2 separate regions of the Homo sapiens genome follow, and region 2 is linked to region 1. Evidence: fine-mapped expression QTL. A gene starts in region 1. The other region holds a variant in brackets. All regions are shown on one strand. Distances are between the middles of the regions.

Evidence for each region. PIP is the estimated chance that this variant, and not a neighbour inherited with it, causes the effect.
Region 2: its variant is the best candidate, but not a certain one, in a credible set for the expression of PTBP2 in whole blood (INTERVAL, PIP 0.83).

What each region holds. Positions count from the first base shown.
Region 1 is chr1:96,718,817-96,724,202 of GRCh38, reverse strand. It overlaps PTBP2 (polypyrimidine tract binding protein 2), which reads right to left and starts at 2,419. Exons shown (of 14, transcript NM_021190.4): 1 at 2,331-2,419; 2 at 609-639. The coding sequence starts at 2,338. RefSeq lists silencers at 1,944-2,223, 2,454-2,653.
Region 2 is chr1:96,647,157-96,652,542 of GRCh38, reverse strand. No RefSeq gene overlaps it. Among named protein-coding and RNA genes, the nearest start is that of PTBP2, 72 kb to the left of the region's middle. The variant C/T (reference allele first, on the strand shown) is at 3,050.

The DNA.
Region 1 (5,386 bases):
ATGTTAAGCATTAGAACTAAAGTTTAAACGATGAGTAGTTTTCTTAGCCAAAAAGGAAGGATTCCAAAGGATCTCTACCATAAAGACTTTCTTTAATAGACAAACCAGCTCTTAACTTCTAATTCAAATTTGAAGCTAACTGCCTCAACAACTTCCTTTTTAAGGATCAGTGTAATTCATTTCTAATGTGCTTTATTATTAACCAAAATATATTCATTTTCATGACAAAAAGTAATAAAAAACAAAAAACTTAGATTAACAAAATTATAAGATATAGGTCAAACCACTTACCATCCATTTAAAATCATTATTTCCCCTCAGAAAATTGGGGTATCGTTTTATATTACAAGAAGCCATGTGTGAAAGCATTTTCAATTTCTTGATCATTCATACTTACTTTAAAAGGTTATTCTTACAGACTGACAGTTCTAGAAAAACTTATGGTGATTACAAACTGTTTATATGGTCCAACTTTACAAATGAAAGGAAACATTTTACACTTGGGTTTTGTTAGCTACGTTATAGTTTTCAAAAGCAAAAGCTAAAATTTTCCAGTAATTATGATAATAGATCCAACAATCCCAGTTTCAAACATAGTATTTTCCTACCTTCACGCCAACTGCAACCTCAGTGACGATTCTGCAAAGAAAAAATAAGTAGTTTCAACCTCCTGTTATTCTTCTAATCACTCACTCTTTGGCTCTAAAACTTTTTAGGATAGTCCATCATTCATAAATCTTCCAGCCACTCACACACAGATGGGGATAAAAAATACCACAGATGATCCGTGACTTACCTGTACTGTTACCAACCTGGTTTTCTAAAAGTAACTTTCAAATGTGAGACAACTTGTGGTATTTTTTAACAACACATTCAATAGCCAAAAAGAACAAAACCCAAAACACTATGCCATTTCTACAATGCCAGTATACTGAGATTAATAATTTAACGCTTAAACTCTTTAGTAGTCTCCACAGGAACCAGGAATCAGGAAACATGAATTCTAGTGCAAGTTTTGACATCAATTTCCGTGTTGATCTGGGGGGAATACTGAACTTCTCTGGATTTGTTTCATCTGGAAAATAATCTTTAGGTAACATCTAGGATGATTTGAATTCTGTGAGACTGTGTTAACTTTTATAAAATCTTGTTTTTAGTACCTTTTAAAACACACCAAACTCTAGGCGCTTAACCAAATTGTTGATTCTTCAAATACTCACTGATTTTAATAAATGTACTTGTTAAATGATACTATGTTTACACTCCCAAAAGAGCTGCATACTGCTGTATTTTTGACCTTAAGCGTGCCCCCTTTCTAACATTGAGTTAAATTACTGAGTCTTTTCAGGTGTGAAGCATATGAGCGAGACATCGGTCCCTACCATTTCACAGTCTTGCCTCTCACCTCACTCAGCATTCCGTCTTGACTCAGGTTCGCAAAGATGCAGCATGGTTCTGGGTTTTTATAGTCGTTTTTCCAGAAACTGACCAAAGTAGCTAAAGAGATAGCCCTTTGTTGACTATCTGCTCTTGTTTCTGCCATTGCTGTTGGCCTTTGCCCATGTGACTGATGTCGGCTTCAAACACTTCGTTTTTTAGATGATTTAATTTCTGGGCCCTTTTGCCAAGCCTTGAATGTTTTCAGTCCCCACAAAAAGGCATTTTTTCCTCCCTCCCGCCCCCACTACCAGACTCAAATGAAAACAAAGGAGTATGACATCTGCCCTCCCCCTTCCTCCCGCCGCCGCACGCCCTCCCCCCTTCCCCAGCGGCTCCCACTAGGCTTTCCCCGGAGCTCCCGCCACCGGCATCTCTCCCGACCACGGAGGGCCGGGCGAGGCCGGAGAGGTTGCTCATGGCTGGGGTCCACATGGGGTGCCTCTCTCCTCTTCCCCTAGAGGCTCCCCCAATCCAAAGGCCTGTCTCTGCCCATCCCACTCGCTCTCACAGGCACCGCTAACCCAAGGGTCGGGTCCCAAGGTACGGATCGAAATGGCTCCTAGAGGGGGCAGGGACAGACCGGGGAGACGTTATGGGGTTCCCACCCCATCCCCCGCCGCCAAGCCGGTGCCCGCTCCCACTCCGGGATCCTCACCCCCGCCATCGCCCCTATGCCTCCCCAGCCTCCAAGCCCGCTTTCTTCTCATTTTCTCGACCAAAGCCCGCCGGGGGAAGCAAAGGGAGGGGTGTGTGCGATGGGGCGGGGGTTGGGTAACGGCAGCCCAGCCCTGGGAGGGGCCGCGGGAGGGTTTCTCCCCGGCCCGGGACCGGGCCGAAGGACGGTCCAACTCCTCTCTCACACACACCTTCTCGCCGGCCCGATTACATACCCGTCCATTGCCGAACCGGACAAAGCTTCGCTCACAAGAACCGAGCCACGCAGCCAGCGAGCCACACAAGCGGCGAGAAAATGGCGGCTGGGGCCCGACGGAAATTGCCGAAGGTGCCGAGGCGCACGGGCCACCGCGCGGCAGCGGCGGCGGCGGAAAGAGCCGAGCGCGCCGGCGCCCGGCAGCGGGAGGCGAGCGGCAGGGCGCTGGGACTAGGGGGAGTGGGCGCCGCAGCCGACGCCTCCTCCGCGCCTTCGCGCGCCTTTCTCCCTCCGCCCTCCGCCTGCCGTCCTCTGGAACCTGGCGTTCTGCTGCAGACCGCGGCGACCTGGTTTCCCCTCCTTGTGGGGGCGTGGGTGGGACACCTCCCAACAGCTCTCCACACTCTCTCTGCCCTGACTGCAGGACGCCCCCAGGCAGCCTCCACTTTTCACTCCAAGCCAAGTACCAGCTTGGCTACCGTCAACCTATGCGGGCCAAGGAAAAAACATTGGATAGCTTTTCTCCTAAGCCATCTTTTATTTGCAGACCGGCTCCAGCCTCTAAAACAAAAATCTTTACCCCACTGAACGAGACCACTTGGTAACAACAGTACTTTCTCAAGCAAGTAGAACTCCTCAGACTGAAATACAGGCTTTTGCTTCAAGACCTGTAGTACCAAGCCAAGTGGAGGAAAATGTGATTCTCACTTCAGTTGGTGATTAGTGTGCGCCTGTAGAAAATATTCACAATACGCTAGGTGGAAATAGACACAAATGGAGCCATGTGTTAAAATGCTACAATAGTTGGAGTTTAACATTTGGAGGCATGAAAGGGAAAGTGGAGATGGGAGTGGGAACAACTGAGTCTTCAGATTGGTTAGAGAAAGTAGAAGCATTAAAATGGGCTATGCAAATTGACTCCCTTTGCTATATCTTACGGTCTCAATTTTTACTTGATACTATAGTGGACATTTTACTTCAACGTGTTTTTATCAGAGGCTCAACAAAATTGGGAAAGGCACCCGCTTGAAAATTTGCTCAGTGAGTAGCGACTTTGCCAGTACCCATCCTTCTCCTGCACCCTTCACCTCCACCCCCAACACACACAAGGACAAATGCACTTCTAATTCTGAAAAATGACAAATACTCCCTGTGTCCCTCCAGTTACTCTCAATACTCACTCTGGGTTTTTCTGTGTCTCCTTCAGGCAAAGCTCTTATCCTTTGCTAATTGGAATTTCATATACTAAATGATATTGTGTATAATTTTTAGAATTTTTTTTTTTGAGACCCAGTCTCGCTCTTGTTGCCCAGGCTGAAGTGCAATGGCGCAATCTCGGCTCACTGCAACCTCGGCCTCCCTGGTTCAAGCGATTCTCCTGCCTCAGCCTCCCGAGTAGCTGGGATTACAGGCACGCGCCACCACGCCCAGCTAACTTTGTATTTTTAGTAGAGACAGGGTTTCTCCATGTTGGTCAGGTTGGTCTCGAACTCCTGACCTCAGGTGATCTGCCCTCCTCAGCCTCCCAAAGTGTTGGGATTACAGGCGTGAGCCACCGTGCCCGGCCATAAATAATATTACTTTTAAATTGGATAGACCCTTAAAGAGCATCTTGTCCAAACACTTTGCTATAGAACTCTTCAAAGCACCCAAATTTTTACAAATTCTTGATTTGCCTATGGGATTGTCAATCGTTAAAAAAAAAAAAAAAAAAGGCCGGGCACGGTGGCTCACGCCTGTAATCCCAGCATTTTGGGAGGCCGAGGCAAGCAGATCACCTGAGGTCGGGAGTTCAAGACCAGCCTGACCAACATGGAGAAACCCCGTCTCTTCTAAAAATACAAAATTAGCCGGGGTGGTGGTGCATGTCTGTAATCCCAGCTACTCGGGAGGCTGAGGCAGGAGAATCGCTTAAACCTGGGAGGCCGAGGTTGCGGTGAGTCAAGATCGCGCCATTGCACTCCAGCCTGGGCAACAAGAGCGAAACTCTGTCTCAAAAAAAAAAAAAAAAAAAAAAACCACATATCAAATTTCCTACAATAACCACTTCACCTTAAACCTTAAAATAAAGGATCTGTTATTAGTGCCACTAATAATCACTTTTCACATATTTGTGGTTTCATACATGTGTTTTCACTCAACAATTGAATGTGCAAGCTACCAAAGGGCGGGAACTATGGTATTAATTCTTGGTATTCCCCACATTCGCTCGATCGATATTGATTGATTGGTTCTCACTTTATCTTGGCAAAGACAAACCATTCTATGAGGAGGGAAGCTTGTCCTTAGGCAGCAGAAGAAATTACAGTGTTCACAAAAACACATTTTTCTTTATTTTTTTTTCGAATACGGTACAAGACCACAAACATACAATAGTTAATCTGCTTGCTTATTTAAGCTAACAGTTTCTTGGAAAAATGCAAGGTAATTTACAAGTCAAGGCACATAAAGTACTAGATTAAGACATGAAGTGAAATAAGAATAAAACAAGAGGACAAAGCATAGCATGAGTCAGGAATGAGGCTAATGCAACAGTGTACACAAAAGCATATTGATTAAAGCCTGGATTCAGATTTGAGCTCTTTCGTTTAATACCTGTGTGACATTAGGCATGTTCATTAACCTCTCCAGGAAACTTTCCTTTGCTGAATATAGGATTAAAAATAGGGCCTTTGGACCTGGCACGGTGACTTAGGTCTGTAATCCCAGCGCTTTGGGAGACCGAGGCGGGCAGATCACGAGGTCAGGAGATTGAGACCATCCTGGCCAACATGTTGAAACCCCACCTCTACTGAATATACAAAAATTAGCCGGGCGTGGTGAAACGTGCCTATAGTCCCAGCTACTCAGGAGGCTGAGGCAGGAGAATCGCTTGAACCAGGGAGTCGGAGGTTGCAGTTAGCCAAGATCGCGCCACTGCACTCCAGCCTGGCGACAGAGAGAGGCTCCATCTCATAAGAAAAGAAAAAAAGAAAAAAATAGGGCCTTCATCCTAGATGACTGTGAATTAAATACCTTAACGTATCTAAGGCACCTCCCTAGCTCAGTAACTACTTACTTACAGTAAATACTTAG
Region 2 (5,386 bases), 72 kb after region 1:
CCATTCATCTAATCTTTTTTCAAGGTTTTTAGCTTCCTTGCAATGGGTTTGAACATCCTCCTTTAGCTCGGAGAAGTATGTTATTACCAACCTTCTGAAGCCTACTTCCGTCAACTCATCAAAGTCATTCTCCATCCAGCTTTGTTCCATTGCTGGCAAGGATCTGTGATTCTTTGGAGAAGAGGATCTCTGGTTTTTAGAATTTTTAGCTTTTCTGCTCTGGTTTCTCCACATCTTTTTGGTTTTATCTATCTTTGGTCTTTGATGTTGGTGACCTACAGTTGAGGTTTTGGTGTGAGTGTCCTTTTTGTTGATGTTGTTGCTATTCCTTTCTGTTTGTTAGTTTTCCTTCTAAGAGTCAGGTCCCTCAGCTGCAGGTCTGTTGGAGTTTGCTGGAGGTCCACTCCAGACCCTGTTTGCCTGCGTATCACCAGCAGAGTCTGCAGAACAGAAAATATTGCAGGACAGAAAATATTGCAGAACAGCAAATATTGCTGCCTGATCCTTCCTCTGGAAGCTTTGTCCCAGAGGGGCACCTGCCTGTATGAGGTGTCAGTCAGCCCCTACTGGGAGGTGTCTCCCAGTTAGGCTACATGGGGGTCAGGGACCCAGTTGAGGAGGCAGTCTATCCGTTCTCCAAGCTCAAACACCATGCTGGGAGAACCACCGCTGTCTTCAGAACTGTCAGGGATGTTTAAGTTTGCAGATATTTCTGCTGCCTTTTGTTCAGCTATGCCCTGCCTGCAGAGTTGGAGGCTACAGAGCCAGCAGGTCTTGATGAGCTGCAGTGGGCTCCACCCAGTTCGAGCTTCCCTGGGGCTGCTTTGTTTACCTACTCAAGCCTCAGTAATGGCAAATGCCCCTCCCCCTGCCAGGCTGCTGCCTCGCAGGTTGATCTCAGACTGCTGTGCTAGCAGTAAGCAAGGCTCTGTGGGCTTGGGATCTGCTGAGCCATGTGCAGGATATAATCTCCTTGTGTGCCATTTGCTAAGACAGTTGGAAAAGCACGGTATTTGGGCAGGAGTGTCCATTTTTCCAGGTGCCATCTCTCACGGCTTCCCTTGCCTAGGAAAGGGAAATCCCCCGACCCCTTGCGCTTCCCGGGTGAGGCGATGCCCCGCCCTTCTTCAGCTCACCCTCTATGGGCTGCACCCACTGTCCAACCAGTCCCAGTGAGATGAACCAGGTACCTCAGTTGGAAATGCAGAAATCACCTGTCTTCTGAGTCGATCATGCTGGGAGCTGCAGACCAGAGCTCTTCCTATTTGGCCATCTTGCAACGGAATCCGATCTTTCCACTTTTAACGTTCACTATGTGGAAATGGGGAATGAAGAATATAAAAATGTGAGCTCAGAAGTTATACTTGACAATTTGAACAATCTATTACATCGGTGCAAAAGTAATTGCGGTTTCTGCCAGTGAAAGTAATGGCAAAAATCGTGATTACTTTTACATCAACCTAATACAATTACTCCAGCATCTTTCACATTTTGAGTAAAAAAAGAAAGACTCCATTTCAGGACTAATATTTTGGAGCCTCTGAATTTGCTTATAACAACTGACATCACAAAATCTGGAAAACTGTCTCCATACAAGACTCATATTTGTTTATTTGCACAAATTGCTAATGAAAGTTTAAAAAAAATGGCCAAGTGACTTAAAAATTAGTTAAAACAAATCTAATAGTGATAATGTTGCCCAGGCATTATCTACAAATACTTACGAATAGATAGTAATAGTAAACTAATGATTCTTAGGTGCATAGCATCAGAGGTTTAACCAAAGAAAAAGGGAAACATCAACCAAGAGCTTGTGTTTTAATAACACCCAAAATAAAAAATCTTCATTAAGTTGTTTTGTGGGGATCACTTGATCATCCTATGCTTCCTCTTATATATTTGTTATCTTTTTAAACTTTATTTTTCCATAGTGTTATTACAACAAATAGGTTAAAACACACACACACACACACACACACACACACACAAGCAGACAAGCAAGACATACTACCCCTAATGCCAATGCTGTAACATTGTTACAATTTCTACTTGACCATCTCAGACAAAGCAAATGGTCATGCTGGACTTCTGTTGGCTTTTTGAATGAAGGGAACTAAAAAAGCATTACAGCAAGAGCAGTGAATCAAGTGCAGGTTAAAGGAGCTATGAACAGGTGTAGATTGGGGCGTTTTTTTTTGTCCTAGGCCTGCTGCTGCTGTACTGGGCTTCATGGCACCTGCTGTCTTGCTAGGGAGTCAGACTTTGAAATGGATTCTTGTGTGGAACCATGGCTGGAAGTGTTGTTGTTGTTGTTGTTGTTTTCCACAAGTGCAGCACAAAGAAGCAGCAGAACCACCAGCCACCCACCTTGCAATCTGGCCTTGGTCTCCAGTTCCACTACCAATTCCTCTAATCACATACCTTGGCAATAACAAACAGGATCAACGTCAGGGACATGCTGCTGAAACAGAAGTGGTAATACCCAGCGCAGAGACAAATTTCACAAATTATTTATTATTAGCAAAGTACTTTGAGAATAACAGGTGACAGGCAGTATGAGTTCAAATAATTCTGTTATTAGAAATAGAGTTTTGAATATATATGCCAGAGGGATTCAGTGCAAAAACGAAGTGGATTCTAGGATCATAAATTCTACATTTCAGGGAAATTTGACACTGTCATTGCTTGCTGGCACATAGTGGAAATATTTAAGTGGTTGGACAATTATTTTAGTAGCTGACAAGTTATGGGACTTAACACATAATAGGTTGATGATGACTTGTTATTGCTTTCAGTTTGGTGGAACAAACAAAAGAAAATTTAGGGTTGTCATTATGACATTCAGAGTTTTTCCCACCCCTTAAGATTGTTGCCTTTTTCTGCATAGACATTATTACATCAAGTTTTGCTTTAAATTCAAATTTGGCTCTCTATGTAGAACCATGGTGAGACCACACCTAGAACAGTAATGCACCATTAATGGTGTCTGTATATCATCATAAACACCCATAGCCCAGACCAACTGTGGCAGTCATTCTCCTCACTCTTA[C/T]TGAATTTGTTATATATGACTTTTGGTTCCCAATAGAAAACCACTAAAGCTATCATTTCAGTCATAGCTAAAAAAAGAGGTTGCATTGTGTAGCCTAAGAAAAATTTGCCCTTTTTTGGAAAGTAAAGCAGCTGTAATTATTTCAGATTGCAATATTGGTACAGAGAATATAGTGCCAAAATACCCATTTTGGAAATGTGCATTGTTGTATAATTAAATCAGTTTCAAAACTTTAGTATAATATTTTATATGTACCAAATAACTCTTCTCCGAGTTTTCCAGAATGTTCTACATATATTAATTAGTCAAATCTCACAATATCCTTGTAGAAAAGTATTATACTAATATCTGGTTTTTAGTGGGAAGAAAACTTGGGGGAAAAAAGCAACATAGGATTACAAAGTAAGTTAGTGACAGAACAAGATTAGAATTCACAGCTTCTGAAAACATTTATAAGCATTTAAAAATATGGGTTCCCATGAATTATATGAGGGAGCAGGTAGCTCTAGGAACCATTTAGAAGTTTGGTGATCTGGAATGGTTTTTGATGAGAGATAATTCATACTCTATTAACTTAATAATTTGTCATAAAATTAGGCCCCTAGGTTACGGTGGGTTGACAGTTGGTTCTAACTATGAAGTTAGACATTTGTGATATATTTTTAACTTTTTACTCTGTAATACTTTCTGAAATGATTCACAAAGCCATTAATAAATTATGTATAACATACAGCAGAAACTTGTACATTCTCAGTATGTCACAATTGTAACTTTCAAAATCCATTAAATGTGTTTTCACATACAGAATTATTTTCTCAGAAAGAAAACATTCACCAGACTCATTTTATATGACCACTAACCTTACAAAACAGTTTATATAAAATATTGTGGCTTACTGTTAAATGTGGATGGGCAAGATGGATCAAAAATCTCTGAGAACTATGTGGAAATTCTTCGTCATCACAACATGCCCTGGGTATTTGCTCTCAGAGAAGAAAGCAATCTGATAAACCTATTTACTTTTAAATTATGGGAATTTACCCTTTTAAAAGAAAGGAGCCTGAAAAGATTGTTCAAGGAAGTTTTGCCCACTGTGGGGAGGATAATTTGGATTGTGCAGCCTTTTTAGTGATTAAGTATTGCTTCTATTTAAAAGTCTAGGTCTCCATAACAGAATGTCTCTGAGAAGATAGCCAAGAACTTGATGTCTAGTCGTCTCGATTCAGGTACAGGTGAATTGGAAGAGCAAGAGAGATGCCTTAAGAATTTACTCAAGTACTGCCTCAAGCAGTTTGGCATATGTGTAGCAGGCTGGGAAATAAATGGAATCATCATTCAAGTCTGAAATTCTGCTATAAGGAAAAGAATTACTTTTTTGGAAAGAAGGATTTAGATTCACAATGACTAAGAAGTAGTCCAGAAAACAGAAACAGGTTTTTAAGATGAAGGCCAATTCATGCATTCAACAAATGTTTATTCAACACTCACTATGTGCCAGACACTAAGTTAGATGATAGCAATTGAGTGGAGAATAAGACAGACCCCATACTTAGTCTCCAGTCTTTACAGAATGGGCTACAGAGAAGAAAAGAGGCAATCATAATATCTGGTGCATAGCAGGTGCTCAAAAAATATGTCAAATTAATTCATGAATTTAAAATGTGACTTTAAATGTGACTATCCTACTGTAATAAAACATTAGATACTATTTATGGGATTTTTATTAAATGTGTTAATTATGATGTAAGCATATTGTAAGCTTAAAAACATATTCACCATTGTGGAGTCATTGTATATGTACAAATATTAAATGTAGAGTTTGAAGTGTGATTGAGAGTAAAAGCTATTAATATAGTGCTAAGATATTGGAGACATAAACCTTAAGTGGAAATTACATTTTTTTGCAACTATTTCAAGGCTGCATTACAAGTATGTGGCAAATTGTATGTGTATGTTTATGCATAAAGATATGACCTAGGACAAAGGAGAGAATGAACATTGGAGTATGTTATTACTAGTTATTACTATTCTATCTTGTCTGAATTTTTAAACATGTAAGAACTAAAGGGAAACATTTGAAAATTTTCGTTTCAATGAGAACACTTGGACACAGGAAAGGGAACATCACACACCGGGGCCTGTTGTGGGGTGGGGGAAGCGGGGAGGGATAGCATTAGGAGAGATACCTAATGTAAATGACTAGTTAATGGGTGCAGCACACCAACATGGCACATGTATACATATGTAACAAACCTGCACGTTGTGCACATGTACCCTAGAACTTACAGTATAATAAAAAAAATTAAAAAAGAAAATTTTTGTTTAACTATATGCTCT